Homo sapiens: one gene and its partners. The protein of the gene in region 1 interacts with the protein of each later gene in a pairwise test. Each region holds a gene or a part of one and is shown in the gene's direction. Other genes may lie near its edges.

What was found.
Region 2: the proteins of REEP5 (region 1) and LETMD1 interact in binary tests that used the Homo sapiens proteins (3 or more experiments, as listed by UniProt).
Region 3: the proteins of REEP5 (region 1) and MEP1B interact in a protein complementation assay, tested with the Homo sapiens proteins (one study listed by IntAct).

The regions. Positions count from the first base shown.
Region 1 is NC_000005.10:112,911,385-112,920,801, reverse strand, and holds part of REEP5 (receptor expression-enhancing protein 5), read left to right. Parts: intron 1-9,417. UniProt on the Homo sapiens protein: Plays an essential role in heart function and development by regulating the organization and function of the sarcoplasmic reticulum in cardiomyocytes.
Region 2 is NC_000012.12:51,055,910-51,060,924, forward strand, and holds the end of LETMD1 (LETM1 domain-containing protein 1), read left to right. Parts: coding exon 1-112; intron 113-234; coding exon 235-336; intron 337-440; coding exon 441-593; intron 594-2,096; coding exon of another isoform or gene 2,097-2,122; coding exon 2,123-2,219; intron 2,220-2,694; exon of another isoform or gene 2,695-2,829; intron 2,830-3,451; coding exon 3,452-3,522; coding exon of another isoform or gene 3,523-3,526; 3' UTR 3,527-4,515; downstream 4,516-5,015. UniProt on the Homo sapiens protein: Plays an essential role for mitochondrial structure and function, as well as thermogenesis of brown adipocytes.
Region 3 is NC_000018.10:32,191,616-32,201,032, forward strand, and holds part of MEP1B (meprin A subunit beta isoform 1 precursor), read left to right. Parts: intron 1-206; coding exon 207-225; intron 226-1,030; coding exon 1,031-1,075; intron 1,076-1,158; coding exon 1,159-1,202; intron 1,203-3,791; coding exon 3,792-3,870; intron 3,871-4,211; exon of another isoform or gene 4,212-5,352; intron 5,353-9,417. UniProt on the Homo sapiens protein: Membrane metallopeptidase that sheds many membrane-bound proteins. Exhibits a strong preference for acidic amino acids at the P1' position. Known substrates include: FGF19, VGFA, IL1B, IL18, procollagen I and III, E-cadherin, KLK7, gastrin, ADAM10, tenascin-C.

The DNA.
Region 1 (9,417 bases):
TCACCATATATTTATGCACCTAGAGAGTAAAACCCTATCAATTAGGTCTTCCTTAATTCATAATTACGTTAATTGAGACAGTAGGGAGAATTTTCTCATTTTCTTTTATTTTGAAAAAGCCACATGTTACAGACAAACTTGGGAAATGCTTACCCTAGTGTAAAAACAAAAACCTTTAAAAATGCTCCATGATATAGCTCCTTGGTTATATAAGTGAGTCATTTATATAATTGAGCTACTTAAAAAATGAATTTTTACGATTAGGATCTGAATTTATTACCAAAGTTGTTTTTATTCTACAATGTGTTTATTTTTTTTAATTCTACGATTTTATTTTTCCATTCGTTCAAGTAGGAATTATTCCTCTCCAGAAATGAATTTTGTTTTGCTCTACAGTTCTTCCTAAGAAAGCCAGTGGTTTTTACCTTCATTCAGTTGGTCTCTGCTACTTTCTTCAACCATAGGGATAAAAATAAAGGAAGAAAAAATTTTCACCTAGGAGGCTAAGACACAGATAACACATTATTACAGCTTGTATCTGTCACTAGTTAGGCTAGAATTTAGTCTATGACTATAAGGGAAGAAACATGTTTTAGAAGTTAGTTCTGATTTGAGCAATTAAATTGCAGTTACCTAGTAGTTGTTACTGTGTTAGTCCGGTACAGACACTTAGTCATACTCCAGAAAGTCTAGCTACATATAGCCCTGAGGCCTACCCCGGGCTCTGCTTTATGGAGGAGACTCAAGGAAAAACGGGATTGTGTGCACAGAATAAAGCATACAGACCCCCGTGAGCAAATATTCAGGCGGTCGGTGTTACATTAGTCTAATCAAGTCTGTTCATTGCATAACCAATATGATTGTATAATTGTCCAAAAGAAAGAAAAAGTATTTGAAAATGGTGGTCTTTAGTAGCATCAAAATCCATGTTGCTTAAAGTGTGACCTGTGAACACTGTCTTAGTCTGCTTGGGCTGCTATAACAAAATACCTTAGACTGGATAATTTATAAACAATAGAAATTTATTGCTCACAGTTCTGGAGGCTGGGAAATCCAGGACCAAGGCACCAGCAGATTTGGTGTCCGGTGAGGGCTTGCTCCCTGCTTCAAAGATGGCATCTTCTCACTGCTTCCTCACATGGTAGAAGGGTCAACTGGCTCCCTCAAGCCTCTTTTATAAGGACACGAATCCCATGCATGAGGGCAGAGCTCTCATGCCTGTTTCTTTTCTTTTGAGACAGAGTCTCGCTCTATATTGCCCAGGCTGGAGTGCAGTGTCGTAATCTCAGTTCACTGCAACCGCCATCCCTGGCCGCCCCCACCCCCGCCAAATTCAAGCAATTCTCCTGCCTCAGCCTCCCTAGTAGCTGGGATTACAGGCGTGTGCCACCACGCCTGAGTAATTTTAGTATTTTTAGTAGAGATGCGGTTTTGCCATGTTAGCCAGGCTGATCTTGAACTCCTGACCTCAGGTGATCCACCTGTCTCAGCCTCCCAAAGTACTGGGATTACAGGCGTGAGCTACCACACCTGGCCAAGCCCTCATGTCTTAATTGCCTCCTAAAGGCACCACTATTTAATACTAATACATTGGGTATTAGGTCCCAACATATGGATGTTGGGGGAACACAACATTCAGACCATAGCAGTCACCTTCATTTTAACTATTCTCCATACCTCTTGTAACTCTTATGCTCCCTAGCCAGAGTTATTTTTTAAAATACAGGTTCATCTATTTAGCAAAAATCAAATGCCAGTCACATGTGTGGCACTGTGGTAGCACTTTAGATATGGCAAGAAATAAGGTAGTCATACTCTCTGTCCTTGTTGAATGAGCAGTCTACCCAGGCAAGAAATAGGCAAAGTAGTGACCGTGTGGTAAGCCCTCTAAAGTAAATAAACAGTTCTGGTAGAGAAGACCTGAGGAATGAGAAGGGGCCAGCCAAGAGCAGAGCCAGGGAGAGGGAGAAGAGTGTGTCAGGCCCTGAGGCAGCACACAGCTTAGCTCTGTGTGAGCAAAGAGTGGTGGGGGAGGCACCAGAGAGGTGCAGGTGCCAGCAGGTAGGGTCAGTGGTAGAAGTGTGCATTTCATTCCAGATGGTGGTAGGGAGTTTGCATTTTCTGATTGCCTTGGATGGGTTTTAAATAGGGGGTGACATGATACGATTTATATTTTAAGGTCACTTTGGCTGCTGTGACCTCTGTAAGGAGTTCGCGATCTTGCCAAACTATTGCCAGTAATTTACTTCCTTCCTTTCTCACCTTTCAGCCTTTCTCTTGCTGTTTCCTCTCCTTGGGCCATCACAAGAAGGGGAGTAGTGTCAGTATTGGGTCAAGAGACTGCAGGATGCAAAGATGAAATTGGGAAAAGCTCACTTGGCTTCCTAGCTTTTCTCCCTTTGGACTCCCTTTGGAAGTCTGTGAGTGAAGCTCAGGTGCACCTGGCTCCTGGTCAGGGTCTGCTGCACGTTGGAGCATGTAGATGGTTGAAGACTTGCCCAGTGCTCACTGGGGAGCAACCAGTACCTTATTGTATACCCCTCTTCCTACTGGTTGTTCTTTCCGTGTGCATAATTTCCCTTTGAGCTCTTTGAGAACAGGGTCTTTCATCTCTGACTTCTAGTTTCTAGAATTTTTGGCCATCTTATATAGGCAATTCGGAATCTAATTCCAGCCTTCCTTTCATCAAGAACTGTTGACATAATTACCTTAATCTCCTTACTTCCCTCTTTTACTGATAACAGGAGGCAGACTACTGGAAATGTTTATTATAAAGATAGACCTCCCCCCATTGCTAAGATATAATTTAGATACTTATAAATTGTACACTTTTAAAGTATGCAGTTCAGTGGCTAGTATGTTCAGAGTTGTGTAACCATCACCACTGTCTAATTCCAAAACATTTTTATCACCCCAAAGGGAAACCATCACCAATCACTCCCTATTCCTCCTACCCAGCCCCTGGAAACCACTAATCTGCATTCTGTTTCTATGAGTTTGCCTATTCTGAGCATTTCATGTAGACGGAATCATACAATATATGGCCTTTAATGTCTGGTGCAGCCCTGCTTCTAATGGGATTGCACAAATAAGAGTCCTCTGGAGGGTGTATGCTGTGCTGCACCCTCATATGTGAGTAAGTCCTCCTGGTGCAGTCCCTCCAGGGTGGGCGCTAGTGAGCCAGGGCCCTAGTCCTGTACTTGCTCCTTTGTACAAATGGAATTGTGAGGCAAACTCAGACTTTATCTTCTATTTAAGGAAAGGGGAAGGTTTGCTTTCTGTCCTACCCAGTAACTTTTTTGCTTAAAATTCTATAAAAATGTCTATTACTTTTCCTCTTTTTATTTCATATTTTCCTTAAGACTTGGGCTGCCACCTTCCTGGGACTATCAGAGTTGGGCCTTAAAGATCAAACAGGTAGTCCAGTTCCTTTAGTTTTAAAATGACAATTCAGGGACAGAGAAAGGTGGAGTGTGTTTCCCAAGGTCACACAGAGGCCAGGCTTGGTCTGGAACTACACAGGAATGTAAAGCACATTTAGGCATATTTTAGTGCCAATGTTAGAAAGATTAAATATGTTTAGGGGGCGGGGCATGATGGCCCACATCTGTAATCTCAGCACTTTGGGGTGCTGAGGCAGAGGGATTGCTTGAGGCCAGGAGTTCAAGACGAGAGTCCAGCACTATATATTTAATCTTTAACAACACTTTTGAAATCTCATACCCAGTTCAGTAATGTGTCATTTTAGTTTCTGTGTGTCCTCACAAGCCCATTTTAAACTTTTGCTGCTGGTGTAAAGAGTTATATTGCATTTAGCTCTTTGTATGACTCCTGAAATCTGTGTAGCATTTTATTTAACAGATATGTACATATCTCTGTCTAAGTGCTTTGCAAATATAGCTCATTTAATCCTCAGAACAACCCTATTATGTAAGTGCTATGATTATTCCCATTTTTACAGATGAGGAAACACAGAAAGAGAATTTGAATAACTTGATCAAGGTCTCACAACTAGCAGATGATGAAACTGGTATTTAAATCCAAAGAATCTGGCTCCAAATTTCATGCTTTTAATGATTACGTTATGCTACCTCCCTTGTGGCTCTTTGAATGTCCCACAAACACAACATCACCTTATGTAGAGATGAAAATTAAAAAATGTAGGCCTTTCAAAAAAACAGTTGACCCTGTCAATACATTACCTTTGTGCAGTGTATTTTTCCTCTCAAATAAGGTACTGTCATCCCAAATCATATATCTGCACACATAGGCATTGACTGTGTTTTGTAGACATTAGTTAGAATATGTTACTAACAACTTTTCTTATCTGTTATGTAGCTTTGACTTATGACAGCAGAGGCTTGCTCTGTTTTACTAGCACAAGGCCACCTGAAAATGGCACACTGAACTGGATTTCCTAAGGGGATGCAGCGTTGCCTTTAGTTCTGTTTCAAGAGACAAGTATCTCAAGGGAAGATGTTTGGGGATGACCCCTATCGAGGTCAGATCAGAAAGGGATGGCAAGAAGGTTAATTTGAAGAAAAAAAACAATGAAAATATCTACAAGAGTTGTAACACAGTTAACCACAAGTAAAAGCAACAGCATCCTCTTAGCTAAATGATGCTCAGCACACAAAGGGAGGACACATTCTGGGGAACACAAGTTAAAAAGAGTTGCAGTCTACTTGCTTAAGGTGTGCATTGACAGACTCCTAAAGAGGTTTATTACCCAGAGGAGACTTTGAGAAAGTCACCGTGGTGTGAATGACAGTTGTGAACAGACACTTTCTGTTTTGCAGCTAGTCACTGGAAGCAGAGCTGTTTCCTTAACAGTACTGGAGGATGTGTATTTGTAGTTCTCTTCTTGGACTCATTAGTAGGGGGTGTATTTGTTTTCTTGTGGGTTTTTTTTTTTTTTTTTAAATTGTAATTATGTTTTGTTCTTTTTTACTCATGAGAACTTCAGAGCAGATGTATTTTCTACTGAGCTGCCTATGTTCCCATTACACTAGCTTTTCTCTCTGGATCTATATGTGCTTTGTTAAAGTGTTGAAGAGCAGAGCAATGCATGCCTGCGCTTTGCCTTCTGGGGTAGTATGAAGCACAAGCCAATGTGGCCTTCTGGCCGATGTGCACTTGGATAAAAAATATAACAGGCATTCTGCAAACTGTGACTTAAGCAATTTACTTAAACATTTAAATCTTTAATTTACTTAATTTAAATCTGAAATCTTAAGCATTTAAACATTTAACCTTCCTCAACTTTTTTACTGTCCTTGTTTCACTTAACATTACTGCTAAGAGTGCTGGACTCTTTTAAGATGAAAGTGTTGTGGAGAAATGAAAAAGTAATAAAAATATCCTTATAACAACTTGTGACTATTTTGTAAAATAATGACAGCCAGCGTTTCAGTTAAGGTTCGCCCGCTTGCCTGTGTCATAAAGAAAATAAAGTTTTAAAAAGCAAATAAGATGAATGATTTAAATTATTTATTCATGATCAGAGTTTCTGGGCTCTAAAGCAGTTGTGGAGGAGGATCTCATTTCTAATACTCTATTCTGGAATGTTCCTTATGAGCTTTTTTTTTTCTCTTTATGAAGGCCCTGGAGATTTAGTCTATTTGTCCTTCTTTCTGTCGTAGCCTCCCTCATCTCCTTCTGACCTGGACTTCTCTTTTTCAGGACTGACTTTGAATGAGGACTCAGTTTTCAACTTAATTTTTTCACATGGCATTTAAAACAAGTATAAATACAAATATAACATGTTAAGGTATTTAGTGGTGATTCATAACATTAACAATTAATTTTGGGGAAGTATGAATTAATATGGCAGAAGTTTTAAAACAATTTCAAAATTGTGAATGAAATTACTTTTTGTAGCAGCTGAAATATAAGTGGGGGCTGTAGAAACGTACCCTGACTTCATTCTGTCACTTGCACACTTTCCTGATTCCAGGGAGTGGAGCTTATCAGTCACTCTGAGTCATGTGTCTACTATATATATCCTGCAGCCTCTGATAGACCAAGTGATCTAGTTAAGGGATCGCTCACTTGTCTAGACTGCGGTCCGCATCTAAGGTGGCCCTCCTTTACCTAGGAAAAGGCAGCTTAGGTTGTTCCCCTTCTAAGTTGTGAGGTTACTTGAGATTAAGTTAAACTTTATGATACCAATCTGACACAGATACTTATAGAACCACTGGTTTTATTGACAAAGGGTTGTCCCAGTGGGATTTGCATCTGCTCTTTTATTGCTCCTGGCATTAATCTTTTTTACCATCAATCATTCAAACAGTTTTTTTGGGGGGACAGGCAGGGAGGCTGAGATGGGTGGATTGCTTGAGTTTGAGACCAGCCTGGACAACATGGCAAAACCCCATCTCTACAAAAAATACAAAAAATTAGTACACGCCTGTAGTCCCAGCTACTCCAGAAGCTGAAGTGGGAGAATCACCTGAGCTTGAGAAAGTCAAGGCTGTGGTGAGCTGTGTTGATGCCACTGCACTCAGCCTGAGTGACAGAGTGAGACCCTGTCTCAAAAAAACACACACACACTTGGGAGGCTGAGGAAGGAGAATTGCTTGAACCCAGGAGGCACAGGTTGCAATGAGCCGAGATTGCGCCACTGCACTCCAGCCTGGTTTTTTTGAGTGTGTTTTTTTTGAGACAGGGTCTCACTCTGTCACCCAGGCTGAGTGCAATGGCATGAACACAGCTCACTGCAGCCTTGACTTTCTCAAGCTCAGGTGATTCTCCCACTTCAGCTTCTGGAGTAGCTGGGACTACAGGTGTGTACTAATTTTTTGTATTTTTTGTAGAGATGGGGTTTTGCCATGTTGCCCAGGCTGGTCTCAAACTCCTGGGTGCACACACACACACACACAAACACACACACATTCAGTTTTGAGTTATAAAATGTTAGCTAAAAGGGGTCTTAGAGACTAAGCTGCTAGGGTGATAGCCACCTGTAACAGATGTGGAAATCAAGGCCACAAACTGAAGTTAATTGACATAGGTCACAGGTGTGTTGGGACCAATTCAGTCTTAAGTGTAGGGATGTCTGTCCACATTCCGCATTGTTATATTTGACTGTGACTGACTCTTCCATTTTGCATTTAAAAACAAAATGGTGGATAGTGGTAAATGAGATCACTGTAATTAAACACCAAAAGATTTGACCACTGAATGACTGCATTTTTTTCTTTATACTTCATTATAGGTATTCTATAGACTCATCTTAATTTTTTTTTTTTTTTTTTTTTTTTTTTAGCCAGGGTCATACTCTGTCACCCAGGCTGCAGTGCAGTGGTGCAATCATGACTCACTGCAGCCTTGACCTCCCAGGCTCTAGCTATTCTCACTCCACTGCCTCTGTAATCTTTTTTCTTTTCTTTTCTTTTTTTCTTTCTTTCTCTTTCTTTCTCTTTCTTTCTTCTTTCTTTCCTTTCTTTCTTTCTTTTCTTTCTTTTCCTTTCTGTCTGTCTGTCTTTCTTTCTTTCTGTCTTTCTTTCTTGATGGAGTTTCCCTCTTGTTGCCCAGGCTGGAGTGCAGTGGCGCAATCAGCTCACTGCAGCCTCCACCTCCCGGGTTCAAGCGATTCTCCTGCCTCAGCCTCCCAAGTAGCTGGGATTACAGGCATCTGCCACCAATTTTTTGTGTTTTTAATAGAGATGGGGTTTCACCATGTTGGCCAGGCTGGTCTTGAACTCATGACCTTAGGTGATCCATCTGCCTTGGCCTCCCAAAGTGTTGGGATTACAGACATGAGCCACTGTGCCCGGTCAGTCTTTCATTAGTCTTTCTCGTACTGTTTGTTGGTTTTCTCTCTTGCTTTAAAAGCACATATACTCTGCAGTGAAAAAGATATGTAACTTTCTGATCACGCATAGTTTCCTGCCTTCTTTTTTTCTATGAAGGAGAAAAATATTTTCCTTATTGGCATGGAAACGAACTAGTGTTTATGTCTTAAAATGTCTGATTCTTTTTTCCTTCTTATTTGAGGTACTGATAATAGGAAAACCATTTTGAATTACTAAGAATTCCTACATCATACTCTCTGATAAATACAGCCAAAAGCAATCCCATGCATGGTGGGCATGGAGGATGGTCAAGTTATGTGTCTGCCATAACAAAAAGGATTATAAACATTATGGTCCATGTTCTTCATATTCAATTTCCAAAGAACCTATCTTAACCTCTGGAATATTTGCTATTAAACATAAGTTACCACATTAGAAATAAAATATAAAGCAGATGGACCAGAAGATGATTCCTTTCTGTTCTTTACCAATAGGACATCTTAAAGCTTTTTATCCATATATATGGATAAAATTAAAATATATATGGGTATAAATGGATATATAGATATATTTTAATGAACTGCTTTTTTTTCCACACTGTCAGTCTCTGGTAAATAGTTGATATTGGTACAACTGGTTTGAATAATAAAGCCAATGCTGTGAAGACATACTATTACTTAATTTTATGTCATTTGGCTAGTTTGAATTGTAGCAACTGAGTTACTTATGAACCATGCACAGAACACATAGTATGTACCTATGTGTCTTAGGTGTGAGTAGCCAAAAGCATGTGTATATGGAGCTGATTATTACCTCTTGAGCAAACAGCTTAACTTTTATAAAATTCAGTTTTCTCATATGTAAAAGGTGGGGATAGGGTTGGGGGGAGTTGGGATAATATATGTCAAACGTTTAGGACAAATCAGGCATTCTGTAAGTGCTCAATTAAGGGGAGTTAGTTTCATTAACATATAAAGAGGAAAATTGACTTAATCATAGTCATAGTTCTTTAACTTTGTGTCATTAAGCTTTTCATTGATTTAAGGAAAAACCTTCCTAAGAGTATTTTCTTTCATTTATTTTTTCACTTTCATTTTTTGTTCCTTGTCTTATTATTTTTTTCCTGTACTTAAATCAGCTTAAGACATCATTATTCAAAGAATAAAACACAGTAAAGTTTTGTTCTTCCAAGTTAAAAATATGTGATATGGCTAGTGGTTTTCTTCTGTACTGGTACAATGGTGTATATGTTCCTAAGCATTGAGTATAAGTTGGACTAACAATTTTTTAATATTAAATCTTATGCATAAGAAATGTGAACTTGGTCCTAAAAGCAAGAACTCAAAACAGAAATATAAAAAGGTTGTACAGTTCACATATAAAAAAGCATTTGATCTATTTTGCATGGTAAGAACAAAATAGATCTGAATTAAGAACTTGTAAAAGTGGATGTTTTTCCAGATGGATTTATTGTGTCTGAAATAATTTGAAAAATAGTATGGAAGGTTGTCCCTTTCCTGTCTCCCTCCAAGTAAGCATTAGCTGTAAGTATTTTGAAATATTGATTGATAGATGAAACCTCAGCAAAAGAAGAAGAGCACATTTTGACCAATACCGAGCT
Region 2 (5,015 bases), on another chromosome or scaffold:
TCATGCTTTCCGGAAGCAGTCCCACCCAGAAATTATTAGTTATTTAGAAAAGGTCATCCCTCTCATTTCTGATGCAGGACTCCGGTGGCGTCTGACAGATCTGTGCACCAAGGTATTCCTGCAGTTAACCCTTCCTACAAATGTGGAATCTTGTTAGATTCAGTGTGCACTAAACTAGGTAAGAGGAGTAGTCAGGACTTTCCTAACATCTACAAATCTCTTACCTCTTCCAAGATACAGCGTGGTACCCACCCAGCAATACATGATATCTTGGCTCTGAGAGAGTGTTTCTCTAACCATCCTCTGGGCATGAACCAACTCCAGGCTTTGCACGTGGTGAGCACTTTGAGGGCTTCTCTTTTCCATAGCATCACCATGTTTCAGGTGTTTGCTTGAGCTCATACTATTTGCCTTTCCCCTCCTATGTGGTTGTGTTACAGAAAGCCTTGAGCCGGGCCATGCTTCTCACATCTTACCTGCCTCCTCCCTTGTTGAGACATCGTTTGAAGACTCATACAACTGTGATTCACCAACTGGACAAGGCTTTGGCAAAGCTGGGGATTGGCCAGCTGACTGCTCAGGAAGTAAAATCGGTAAGAGCTTGATTGCAACATCAACCCTCAACCCTTGGTGTGCTTTTGAGCCTATGGCAGGCCGGAGGTTTACAGGGGCTCCTTGTCTTGTTTGTTTATAGAACCCAGCTTCTTTATTCTCTCACTTCATTTATTTATTTATGATTTATTTTTATTTATTTATTTATTTTGAGACAGAGTCTCATTCTGTTGCCCAGGCTAGAGTACAGTGGCACAGTCTTGGCTCACTGCAACCTCTGCCTCCCGGTTCAAGTGATCCTCCTACCTCAGCCTCCCAAGTAGCTGGATTACAGGTGTGCACCACCACGCCCAGCTAATTTTTTGTATTTTTAGTAGAGATGGTTTCACCATGTTTGCCAGGCTGATCTCAAACCCCTGGCCTCAAGAGATCCATCAACCCAAAGTGCCGAGACTACAGGTGTGAGCTACCGCACCCAGCATATTTATTTATTTTTCAGTCTCACTATTTTAACCAAGCTGGTCTTGAACTCCTGGCCTCAAGCAATCCTCCCATCTTGGCCTCCTAAAGTGCTGGGAATACAGCCGTGAACCACTGTGCCCGGCCTTTTTAAAAATTATTTTTTAATTAGCCAGGAGTGGTGGCACATGCCTGTAATCCCAGGTACTTGGGAGGCTGAGACATGAGAATTGCTTGAACCCAGGAGGTGGATTGCAGTGAGCCAAGATCGCACCACTGCACTCCAGCCTGGGTGATAGAGTGAGACTCTGTCTCAAAAAAAACCCAAAAAATAAAATAAAATTATTTTTTATTTTTGTAGAGACAGGGTCTCACTATGTTGCCCAGGCTGGTCTTGAACTCCTGGGCTCAAGTGATCCTCCCGCCTTGGCCTTTCAAAGTGTTGGGATTACAGGCATGAGCCACTGCGCCCAGCTCCTCACCTCATTTCTGTGTCTTTTTTCTCAAGAAACTTAGCTAGGGGGAAGGAATTGCCCACAGAAATTTTGGTTTGTATTTCTTTTCTTCTGGCACTTCAGAAAGCAAGGATACTGCAGTTTAGACCTACTATTTTAGCTTATATAGGACTCTTTGCTTTTGTCATCTTGTCCATCACTAGTTTTCAAATTGCCATGAGGAAAGGCTTCATGTGGGAATGAGATTGTAACTTTTTTTTTTTTTTTTGAGACAGAGTCTCGCTCTGTTGCCCAGGCTGGAGTGCAGTGGCATGATCTTGGCTCACTGCAACCTCCGCCTCCCAGGTTCCAGTGATTCTCCTGCCTCAGCCTCCCGAGTAGCTGGGACTGCAGGTGCATGCCACCACGCCTGGCTAATTTTTGTATTTTTTAGTAGAGATGGTGTTTCACCATATTGGCCAGGCTGGTCTCCAACTCCTGACCTCGTGATCCGCCTACCTCGGCCTCCCAAAGTGCTGGGATTACAGGCACGAGCCACCGTGCCCGGTGAGATTGTAACTTATTTAAAGGAGATTTAGGATTGTTTGTGGATTTCCATTTCCTTGGCATAATCATTCTATGATTATTAAGGACCATTTCTGTTCTGAGTGGTATAGGCTTGTTATCTCCGTGGCCTGAATTCTACGCATATTGGTGAAGATAGGTGTCGAACTTGGCTGGGAGAATGGCTGCAGATTTCCTGCAGCCTGAAAGGTAAAACACATTTCTGTGGTTATACCACTAAAATCCAAGTCACTTTTGTATTTTATTCTGAGGTCATTTTGGAGTTAATTATTGAGTACTGTGAGACATATATATACATACATCTAATTGAAAGGGCACAAACTCACATGCCTACTGCATGCCCGGCAGGTAACGAAGTAGGCCATAAGACAAGAGGGAGTAGTGGGGACTGTGGAAACCTAAGAGTGAATGCATGCTAGTGTGAATTTTCCAACCTTGGCACTTCCTTATGGGGGGAATATCCTGTGCTTTATTTATTTATTTATTTATTTATTTTGAGACGGGGTTTCGCTCTTGTTGCCCAGGCTGGAGTGCAATGGTGCGATCTCGGCTCACCGTAACCTCTGCCTCCTGGGTTCAAGTGATTCTCCTGTCTCAGCCTCCCAAGTAGCTGGGATTACAGGCATGCACCACCACGCCCAGCTAATTTCGTATTTTTTTTTAGTAGAGACCAGGTTTCTCCATGTTGGTCAGGCTGATCTCGAACTCCCGACCTCAGGTGATCCGCTGGCCTCGGCCTCCCAAAGTTTTGGGATCACTGGCGTGAGCCACCATGTCCAGCCTATCCTGTTCTTTATAGGTATTTATTATAGCAGTATCCCTAGCCTCTACCCACTAGATGCCAGTAGCACCCCTTCACCCACAGTTGTCTCAACCAAAAATGTCTCTAGACATTGCCAAATGTCCTAGGGGTGGGGAGGAGAGAGGCAGGATTGTCCCCGTTGAGAAGTACTGGTCTAAAGGCATTCAAACTCAGAAAAAAAACAGTCTGCTGACCAAACACAAAGCATCTGAGGGTATGTATTAGGCTTGTTTGCCCCCTGTTTAGGCTAGGTCTTGATGTTTTGTGGGCCTTTGGATGTTAGGGTAGGCCTACTAATCTTGAAGCTGAGAAATGTCCCTAGAGCACCAACTTCTACCAGAAGAATCCCAACGCGACTGGTGTTTAGTACCATTACCATCTCTGAATTTTCTACTGCAATCACATGAGAAATAGAGGATGAGTTGATACGAATATATAGTAGAAGGAAAGGAAGGCATGCATACAGGGGCTGAAACAAAGAAGGGGAACTTTGAGAAAAACAGCTTCTTCATTCCACCCCTCCCTGCACTTGGCTTCCTGCCTCCAGGCTTAAGCCATATATAACAAGGCAGTTATAAGGCAGTGTTCCCAAGCCAAACCACTAACACTGTGTTTTCAGAAGCTGAGCTGTCTCTCTTGCTGCACAACGTGGTCCTGCTCTCCACCAACTACCTTGGGACAAGGCGCTGAATGAACCATGGAGCGGATGGCATTGTCCTGCAGTCGTATAGTATAGCAGTGCAGGAACAAACAGCACTTGCCAGCAAAGTCTGTGTGTACTGTTAAGTGTGTGGGAGGCAGAGAGAGGAGCAGGGGCCATGGGCTTCACAGCATGGCACACATGTGGGAACTGCAGACATTCCTCTCACAGCTAGAACTGAAACAAACCCTCTTGCTAGGGGTGGTCCGTGTGAGGTGTCATCCTGTCCCCCTCATAATTACTAATAGCTGGAACTGGCAGCAGCCTCTACTGGGCTTTTACTGTGATGTGTTCAGTTCATGTCCTAGGAAGTCAGCTTTTGCCCCAGGTGGGAATCCTTATTTGGCTTAGGACTGATCCACTTCCATGTTACTTACATCTGTGGGTTTTTGTTGTTGCTGTTAGAAAATTTGTGGCTGGTGAAAACAGCACTCCTTTGGCTGGAGCACATGTGTCCGTGCATGTACTTGGGTGTTTCCCTCCATCCTTTCTGATATGACCAAAAATCAAGTTGTTTTGTTTTTTGTCACCTTCACTGGCATGGGCTAACCACTTCTTTTTCAAACCCTCTGAACACCTTTTTCTGATGGGTAACTTGCAGGAATATTCTATTGGAAAAGATAACAGGAAGTACAAGTGCTTCTTGACCCCTTCCTCAATGTTTCTAGCCTTCACTCTCCATTGTCTTTTCTGGGCTGTATTACAGCCCTCTGTGGATCTTCAACTCTGCTGCCTCCACTGTGATGCAGCAGTCCAACTGTAACTGACAGTGGCTGCCTTCTCTGGGCCATGGATCACACCTGTAAGGTACTAATTACTGCCCAGCCTGGGGAGATCAGGAGAGGTCTGCATAGTTAGTAAGTTGGGTTTAGCTTTTGTGTGTGCATCAGTGACTTAGAGTTCTGTAATAACTTATTGTAAATGCATGAAGCACTGTTTTTAAACCCAAGTAAAGACTGCTTGAAACCTGTTGATGGAAATGACTTATGCATACTCTAATCATTTTGCTGTCTCCTTTTACAAGACTGACATAATCTAACAAATGGGGATTTAATTGGTTGGCATAGAACCTTCTGATGGGATGGAAGTTTTGCAGAAACTGATTTGAAGTTGATCTCCTTGCTGGACACTTTAAGGTGATAACAAGGAAAAGAGAATTTCATAAAGTTAATGGAATGAGGCCGGGCGCGGCGGCTCACGCCTGTAATCCCAGCACTTTGGGAGGCTGAGGCGAGCGGATCACAAGGTCAGGAGATCAAGACCATCCTGGCTAACACGGTGAAACCCCGTCTCAACTAAAATAGCAAAAAATTAGCCAGGCGTGGTGGTGGGCGCCTGTAGTCCCAGCTACTCAGGAGGCTGAGGCAGGAGAATGGCGTGAACCCGGGAGGCGGAGCTTGCAGTGAGCCGAGATTACGACACTGCACTCCAGTCTGGGCGACAGAATGAGATTCTGTCTCAAAAAAAAAAAAAAAAAAAAAGT
Region 3 (9,417 bases), on another chromosome or scaffold:
TTCATTTTCCATATGAAATGAGAAGACCCTTTGGTCAAAAAGTCATCTTAAACTTCAATTTAGCCATCCTAAATACATGTCAGGAAGTAATCCATAATATTAATGACAAAACAAACAAACAACAAATGGTTAGATATAAACTGAATCCAAGAAGACCATTCCTGGGCATTATAATAATATGTTTTGTTTATGTGTTTATTTCCCAGGCAACTCCAGAAAACTTTGGTGAGTCTATTTTGAGTTTTGTTCTAGGTTATAGAGAACCTAGGACATATTTAATGCTAAACATCATACATAATTACATATGCATAATTGATGCATAATTGCATTGAACTTTGATCTAATACTGGATTCTTTTGATTTATGGAGGGACATTTTATTGTCCATGTTCCAGGCTTCATATGCCCAGCAAAGAAATAGATGGTATAGGAAAGGCCAAGCACAGTGACTGACACATAGACATCCCATAAATGCTTGCTATTATTGTTTTTGTTATTTTGTGTCAAATCAGATGGACCTAATAATAACAGTCTACTCAGTATTCACTTGCATACTCGGAGATTTGGCCATATTATATACACCTTTACAACTTAAAATAGTAATTCAAGTTTAACTTAAGAATTTTGCTTGAAAGTTCCAAGGTATACTACTAGCAAGTGATATACATGTATGAGTAGATTGGGCTAGTTTGACCAAATTTAATCATTTGTTTGCTATTTAATCTAGTCTTCTAGTCTTTCAAATTATGCTTAATAATATATGGAGCAACCAATTTCTTATTCCCGAAGTCATTTGACATTCAAGGAATGTCGATAGGACAGAATACATACATAAAAGCTCTTTAGAGCCCAACCTGGCTCATAGGAGATTCTTAATCAATCAATCAATCAATCAATGTATGTTGAGTCTGAATCTAGTAGTCACCTGAGGCCAAAAGAAACTTGCTTAGTTCTGATTATATAAATGATAAAGGTTTTCTCCTTTTATAAACATAATGTTCAATTTTTTGTTGTTGTTGTTTTAATCAAAGATGTAGATGGCGGAATGGACCAGGACATATTTGATATCAATGAAGGTTTGTGGATTTTTTTTACATAATCTCTTAAGTAGAGAGTTTGAATCCAATTTGCTAACATGAATTTTTATCTTTACTCTTAGGTTTGGGACTGGATCTTTTTGAGGGTGACATCAGACTTGATAGGGTGAGTTGAAACAGTATAAGGAAGAATCTTCCATTAACCACTGCAAGCCAAATTCAGAGTAACTGAGAAAGATTAGACAGCATGAACTTTGTTAAGCCTAACTATCTCTAAGGGTGCAGAATCATGGTGACACATTTATTCAATGAATATATTATACTCAAAGAAATGCATATAATTGTGTCTTCATCTTTCATTACTCATATTTCTGTGTGGTTCAAGCCACCATAACTCATTACATATGTCTTAGTCTTATTGATTTGATTGATTTTCATTATTGGAGCAATATGACATTTGATTTTAAAATAGGACCTCACAGATTCAATCTAGTGGAGGCAAAATTAAACTGAATTTGTAAACATCTTCAATGAATCAGGCTTTTTACCCCAATAAATAGATTTTGTGACTTCTACCCTGGCCTTAGCTAAAAATAATGTTGCCAAGTTAAGACCCTCCCAAACCTATTCATAAAGAGTGCTGATTCTCATCTAAGTCATCATGCCACACAGATAAACACAAGAACCTTGCAGGTAGATTAGGGGGACTAAAAAGTTCACTATCATGAAAGCACTGTTTTTTTCAGTGTTCTCTCACAGCATGGAAATAAGCACTATTTTTCAAAAGACAAGATATAGTTTATTGCCCACTAGATTGAAAAATATTAAGAAACTTACTACTTACTATCCCTTTTGGTGATGATAGAGAGAAACTAGGATGCTTGTTTAGGAATGTGTTTAGAACATGTTATTATACTGGAGAGTGTATAAATTTGAAAAAAAGAAAGAAGGCAATTTGAGAAGAGCTAGCATAGTTTAAAATATATACACCATGTGGCCTAGAAATTACCCAGTAGATCTTTTCCTGTAAAATTCTGCTCTTCCTTCCAACACAGTCCTAAGTCACTCCCTTACTTCCTATATCGTAAGCACCAACATCCCTCACAGTCCTCCCACCCCCAGGAAACAGAGCTGCAGTCTCCCAGGCTTAGTCCTGAGCCTACTCTTCTATCTGTGCTCTCTCTTGATCTCACCTTCGTCCAGGGATTCAAATGTCATCTCCATGCCAATGAATCCAAAGGCATATCTCTGGTCCTCTCCTTTCCCTGAGCTCCAGACTGGTCTATCCAAGCACTAATTTGCCAGCTCCACTTGAATGTCTACAAGACGTCTCAAACCTAAGGTGTCCTCTGATCAGGTGAACTCTGACCTTCCCCCCAAACTGTTCCTCCCCACTCTCCTGTCTTCATAAAGTCATCCTCACAACCTGACTCTACTCAACTGAACACATAAAAACCTTGAGCGCCACCTTTGCTTCTCCTCTCTCCTTCACTCCCCATCCAGCCCGTCAGCAAGTTCTATCATTTCTAGCTCTAACATACACTGCAAATCGTCCACTTTTCTCCATCACTCTAATTCAGGCCCCATCATCTCTTGCCTGGCTTTTTCCATTAGCCTCCTAATTTGTCTTTCTATTTCAGATATTGTTCCCCTATAATCTTTTCCACCCTGTTACTTGTCCTTATCTCTCACAGCAAAGTCATTTTTCAAACAGGCAGTGACTTCATTTCACCTCCTGGCTTGAAACTCTTCCATAGTTGCCTATGGGTTTAGAATCATCTCCCGATTTAGTCCCAGCTGTCTAAGCCTAGCATGCCTTAGCTCCTGCTTCTGTCCTCCCCTCTTCCCTCCCCTCTCCTCTCTTTTCCTCTCCTCTTATCTCATCCACGTTCTCTCTTAGACTCATCAGGCTACTGGTCTCAACACATATTCAAAACATCCCAGGCATATTCCCACCTCAGAACAAGAACAACTAATGTTCCCTCTGCCTGAAACCACCTTCCCAGGACCCCTTTCAATGCTGGCTCTGTCTTGCGATCCCTATTTCCCCTTAAATATCATCCCTTCATAGACGACTGTCCTGATCACTCCATCTCATGTACTCCGTCATCCCTGTGCCCTTGTTCACATCTCTCTTTCTAATTTCCTCCCTATTGCATTCATCCTGCTTAAACATTTTTTTTTTTACATACTCTTTCTGTCCTCCACTAGATATAAGCTCCATGAAGCCAGAGACCTTTATTACCAAGGAATCTCTATTCTCTAGGACAATATTCAATTTGTGGACTGAGTAAATACATTAGTAAAATATTACTCATTTTCTATTATACAGTTTAAAATCCTTTAAAAATTTTTGAAAACTTTGGCCCAGCTCATGTGTGACTTTTTCTGATATTGTGAGATCCAGATTATCAAGGTCTTGCTATCACTGTTTTCTTGCAAATTTTTAATCTTTAAGTGTAGGAAACTAACCTATAAATCTACCAATATTTGTAGTTCAGTTTTCCAACAGTTATTTTTTGCATTATTCCTTCTTCAACTGTATTAACAAAATGATAGAAATTAGTAATTTCTTCCTAGAAACTTTGTTATATTATGATAAAAGTAGGGCTACACACACACACACACACACACACACAATTTGTTTGTGCGAACTGGGAGAGCTTTAAACTTCATTTATTTCTAGATTAACTACAGGTTTCCTAAGTGTTTGCCTTATTTGTTTAACTAGCCCTTTTGCATTTATTTTTGACAGGCACAAATTAGAAATTCCATCATTGGAGAAAAGTATAGATGGCCTCATACCATTCCATATGTTCTAGAAGATAGCTTGGGTTAGTATGCACCTTGAAGTATCCATAACTAATGTCTATTTCTGACAAAATATGATTATAGTGTTTCAAAGGGTGGGCTTATATAGTCTTTAAGGTTTTGTTTGGTTTGCTCCTTTGTGTGGCTATGTACATTTACTTTGAAAAAAAAAATAAGCAAAACGAACAATGAAAGTAACCTAAATGACTCTGTCTGAAATATTTACAGTGTCTTGACCAACAAAGCAATGAGTTCAACCAACGTTTATGGAGAGCCTACTCTGTTATGCTAGGGACATAACGATTAGGGAGCCAGTCTTTTTTTGTGGGGGAGGGGCTCTGCATCATATATTCATTGAACCAGTGCAAAAACATCTTTTGGAGAGCAGACAGGCCAGGCCAGGGTCCCAGGAGGATGCTCTGCTGGGGGTGCAGTGAGGGTGAAACATGGAAGAAGAGGGCCTTGCTTCCTCTTCCCATGGCAGGTATGCTCCTTTCTCCTAGAGTCTGGATCCCTGGTGAGTGAGGCCACTGACTGACTGTCCATCTGCCTGTCCCTCTCTATCCCTGCAAGTTCGGGGAAGAAGGGTCATTGGCAGCCCGGGGCTGGGAACCCAGGTCCTCTGGTGCCCCCGCTGGCTCGGGCTCGGTGGCCTTGGGCTCCTTGGCCTCATCCCTGTTTCTGCTGGCCTTCTGGAGCTGGTGTCACTGCGCCACCTCGGCTTTCAGACTCTCCAAGTCTTTTTGGCTGAGAGGAATGAAGAGGATGCCATTGATGCCTTTGAACTGCTCCAAGACGCTGGCCATGCTGGGGGCTGTGAAGTTGAGGGGCGGGATGTTGTTGCTGGAGCCGTTGCGGTAGATCTCATGCATGGCGCGCCGCAGGGCCACGGCCAGCTGGGTCAGGCACTTGAGGTACTCAGAGCTCTCCTTGGTCTTCTCCTGGTCCTCGCCCAGCTGGGTCTTACAGAGGGTGTGCAGCCAGCCCTTCCTTCTGGTGCTGCAGGGCCGACCGGAAACTCAGCTTTGCTCTCATAGACCGAGGTGATGAGGTGGTGGCCAAGGGCCACCTTGAGAGCTTTGGGCCCTTGGTACTTGGTGCTGACGGCCAGCGCGTTGTCCAGGAAGCACAGCGACAGGTCGTACTCCATCACCCTGTGCAGCACCCGCCTGATGTTGTCCAGCACGCCACCTCGGGGTGTCTTCCCCAAGCACCAGCGCATGAGGTAGTGGGCGCCCTGCAGCAGGCTGAGGGCCAGGGACAGCTGCCTGCTGGTGAAGCAGTGCAGGGCCAGGTGCATGTTTTCCTGGATGGTGTTGGGGTGCTCGATGCCCATCACCCGCACGCTCATCAGCACTGCCTTCTGCTGGCTTCTCAGGGCCTCTGCGTACTTGCCCATGATGTAGTGGAGGCGGGCAAGGAGGCGCAGGCAGGCTCAGATCTCCACGTGCACTGCTCCCTACACTTGGTTAAACAGGTGCAGGGCCTGATTGATGGGCTCACAGGGAGCCAGTCTTTATTTTAAAGCAGTGGTTTACCCTATGATCAATTATACATATGAGAAAATACATAAAATAACCAACTAAATTTGAGGAACTGGCATTGTTTTATCAACATTTTATTTTGCCAGGTCAGGAACTTAAACAACAACCTAACATGATAAAAGAGCTTTCATCATCCTCTTTTCATACAGTAAATAATGTTATTAGTGTAGTATTAAAATGTTAAAAAGTCAGAAGAATCAAATCCAAAACTAAGAACAGCTTTTCTATAGAAGAAATTTAAATATGTTGGAAAACTCTAAACATGGTCTTCATTTTAATCTATGGACTAGTGGCAATGATGCCACTGACCAGCATTAGCTTAGAAATTGCTGTTTGGGAAAAGTTTGAGTAAAAACCCTGCTATAGTTTTTTAATTTTTAATTTTATTTTTCATTTTTGTTTTTTTTTTTTTGTTTTGAGACAGAGTCTTGCTCTGGAATGCAGTGGCACAATCTCAGGCTGGAGTGCAGTGGCATAATCTCGGCTCACTGCAGCTTCTACCTCCCAGGTTTTGGCGATTCTCCTGCCTCAGCTTCCCGAGTAGCTGAGATTATAGGCATGTGCTAGCACACCTGGCTAATTTTTGTATTTTTAGTAGAGATGGGCTTTCACCATGTCGTACAGGCTGGTCTCGAATTCCTGGCCTCAAGTGATCTGCCTGCCTTGGCTTCCCAAAGTGCTGGGATTACAGGTATGAGCCACTGCACCCAGCCTGTTATAGTTTTTTAAAATTTCAACTTTTATTTTAGATTCAGTGGGTACGTGTGCAGGTTTGTTACATGGGTGTGTTGCATGATGCTGAAGTTAGGGGTACAAATGAACCCATCACCCAGGAGTTGAGCATAGCACCCAATAGGTGGCTTCTTCAACCCTTTTCTCCCTCCCTTTCCCCTCTTGTAGTCCCCAGTGTCTTTTGTTCTCATCTTTACATCCATGTCTATGCAATATTTAGCTCCCACTTATGGGAAAACATATGGTATTTGGAAACCCTGCTATTTTTCTTAAAGATCATGCATTTCAGTGGAGACTCACATAAATCAAAAGTGAATTATGATAGAATGGAATAAACATTATGATTAGTGATGTGTTCAAAGAGCTATGGGAGCACATTGGAGGGGCAGTAAACTCAACCTGGATAGAAAAGCATATGCATTATAAGCAGAGGACGCTATATAGCAGGACTGCCATGAAGACTGTGTAAGTTGTACACCGTACAACTGACATGACCTCCTGGAGCTGGTGCTGCCATGCCACCTCAGCTTTCAGATTCTCCAAGACTTTTTGACTGAGAGAAATGAATGAAGAATGCCATTAATGATGTAGAGCTGCTTCAAGAGGCTGCTCTCAGGTGGCTGGGCCAGGAAACAAGTGGAGCTGATACCAGGTTTACGTTCTTTCTGTTCACCAGGAGGCATTTGTTTCTTTGTGTGAAAGTGCTGTTCACCCATCTGGCCAGCCAGCAACTGCAGCACCTGCTCAGAGGTAGTGCCTCTTCCTAATTGGCACACAGGCACCATGTGGGCTAGTGTGGCCTCTGATAGCAAGGGAAGGGTGCTTTAGCCAGATGCATCACGATCTGCTAAGTCCTGAAGAAGGGAGAAAATCCTGAGCTGGAATTTAGATTGAGAGTGGGGAGCTAGGAAGTTGAGCAGGTAGGCGGAACGCAAATGGGGAAGGACTTGGGTCTTCCCGGTGTTAAAGAACTTGTCGTGTATACTAATAACATGGGGCCACCAAAAGTATTATTGTGGAAGTGAGATTGTTAAAATTGCAGTTTAAAATAATCACTTGGGTTGAAGTATAGAAGATGTGTCATTAGTGGGGTAAAAAGAAGATAGGGAGACCAGTTAGAAAACTACTGAGGAAATTCAGAGAAAGAATTAAGAGATTCCTAACCAAGATAAATCTAAAAGCTATTTGGGATGCATTTGTTAGATTTAGTGATTGACTGTAAGAGGTCAAGAAGAAGGTGGGTGTAGAGAAAGAGATTCTAGTGCTCAGGATTCAGTCCTGGGTAGCTGAGGGCATGGTAACGTCTTCAACAAGAATGGAGAATTTAACCTTGAGGAGCATGAGACAGAGAAGCATGGTGGAAATTAGTTTTTGGCATGCAGAATTTGAAATGCATCAGAGTCACTGTGGTGGAGATACCAAATAAATTCTTGGTATATGACCTGGTCATTCAAGGTCGAGAAATGTTTGGGAGTTATTAGGATGTAAGAGATGGTTGAAGCCGTGAGTATGGATGAGCATTTCACACAGTGCCTTGCATAGAGCAGGTGCTCCATAGATAACTGGATTTTATTGATTTATCCTGGAAGGTTGTGTTGAATAAGTAAGAAGATGGTCGAGAATGAAACTCAGTGCCATTTTTTGGAACTGGTATAGAAGGAAGATCTAGTGGAAGTTATTGAGAAGGGGGAATTGGCCAGAAACATAGATAAAAAACTAACAGTAGGGTAGGGAAAGCCAGGGCAGGAGTAGTTAGCGGGGTTGGAAGCCATAAAGAGCACAGGGGGCATGAGGAGAGAAAGATGTTCATTGACTTTTGGAATTAGGAACCTGAAAGATTTTGAATATACATGTTTTTTTGGTTTAGTCTTTTGATTAAAAAATTTTTAAGTTCTTTTGTTTTAATTCTTCCTTTTTTTCCTTTCGTTCGTTCCTTCCTTCCTTCCTTCCTTCCTTCCTTCCTTCCTTCCTTCTTTCTTTTTTGAGACGAGTTCTCACTCTATCACCCAGGCTTCAACCTCTGCCTCCCAGGCTCAAATGATCCTCCCACCTCAGCCTTCCAAGTATCTGGGACCACAGATGCATGCCACCATGTCCAGCTAATTTTTTGTATTTTTGGTAGAGATGGGGTTTCACCAGGCAATCCACCCACCTCGGCCTCCCGAAGTGTTGGGATTACAGGCGTGAGCCACCACATCCAGTTATATTTCTTTTTTTAAAAAACTTATTCTCCTAAGTATGTTCCATGAAAGATTAGGGAGCTTTAATTTTATATATATCTTAGGCTATTTTTTTTTTGCCATGTATTTAACCATGAGCTTTATTTATTTTTTAAACAACATTATAAACAACATAATGAATGCCTTGAGGATAAGAGCTATTTTTCATCTTGCAAATTGGAGGATTACCATAGTCTCTGGCGTATTATATGTAATAACATTTTTGAAATAAATTGATAAGCATATGTATATATATAAATGAAAAATGTTAGGTAAAAATTCAGCCTAGATCCTACCATCCAAACTGTGCACATTTTTACATAGTTATAACTATGATGTCTTAAATCTTTTGTTCTAATTTTTTCACTTAATGTTATTGCATTTTTTCATATTGTATAGTCTTTATAATAGAATCAAACTTCAAATTTTTATAGAACAATTTTTTTCAATTATGTGATTTTGATTATTTCTTATTTAGAAAATACTTTTGTTTAATATTGTAGAATTCAACTTGTTTTCTATGTTCAAATTAAGAAAAGTATCCTTACGTTTCAGAAATGTATACCATCTTCAAATGACTCAGACTAAGAAAATTACTAAGCAAGGCCACTCTTACAGGTAGCAAAAATAAATACCTATGAAGGGTTGATTTCTGGAAGGCCCTATTACTCAGATTCTAGTAGGTCAAACTGTGAAATTCTACCAGTAGGGTTGTAGTCTTTGAGCTTGAACTTCAGATGTTACCTGGCTGGTAGATGCAACTTCCCTGAAAGGAGTAATACTCATAGCAGCCATTTATAGTTTCCAGGGCCTAAGTTATAATTCCTTGCCTTAGCACCAAGGCAGAAAAGGCAGTGGGGGAGGCTGAGGGTAAAGAGTTGGGGATGGAAATGAAGGGGAAGGTGCTAGAAACCTGAAGGGGCTACTAAGGGGAAACAATCCTGAACAGCTGCTTACTGAACTCCTAGGATTGCCAGCAACTTGCCTCATTTTCCAAAGCCTGGCATGGTTCCAAGTGGAGCTTTCTGCATCTATAACGCAAGGTTAACTAAGGCCCTCAGTAAATAAAGGCATA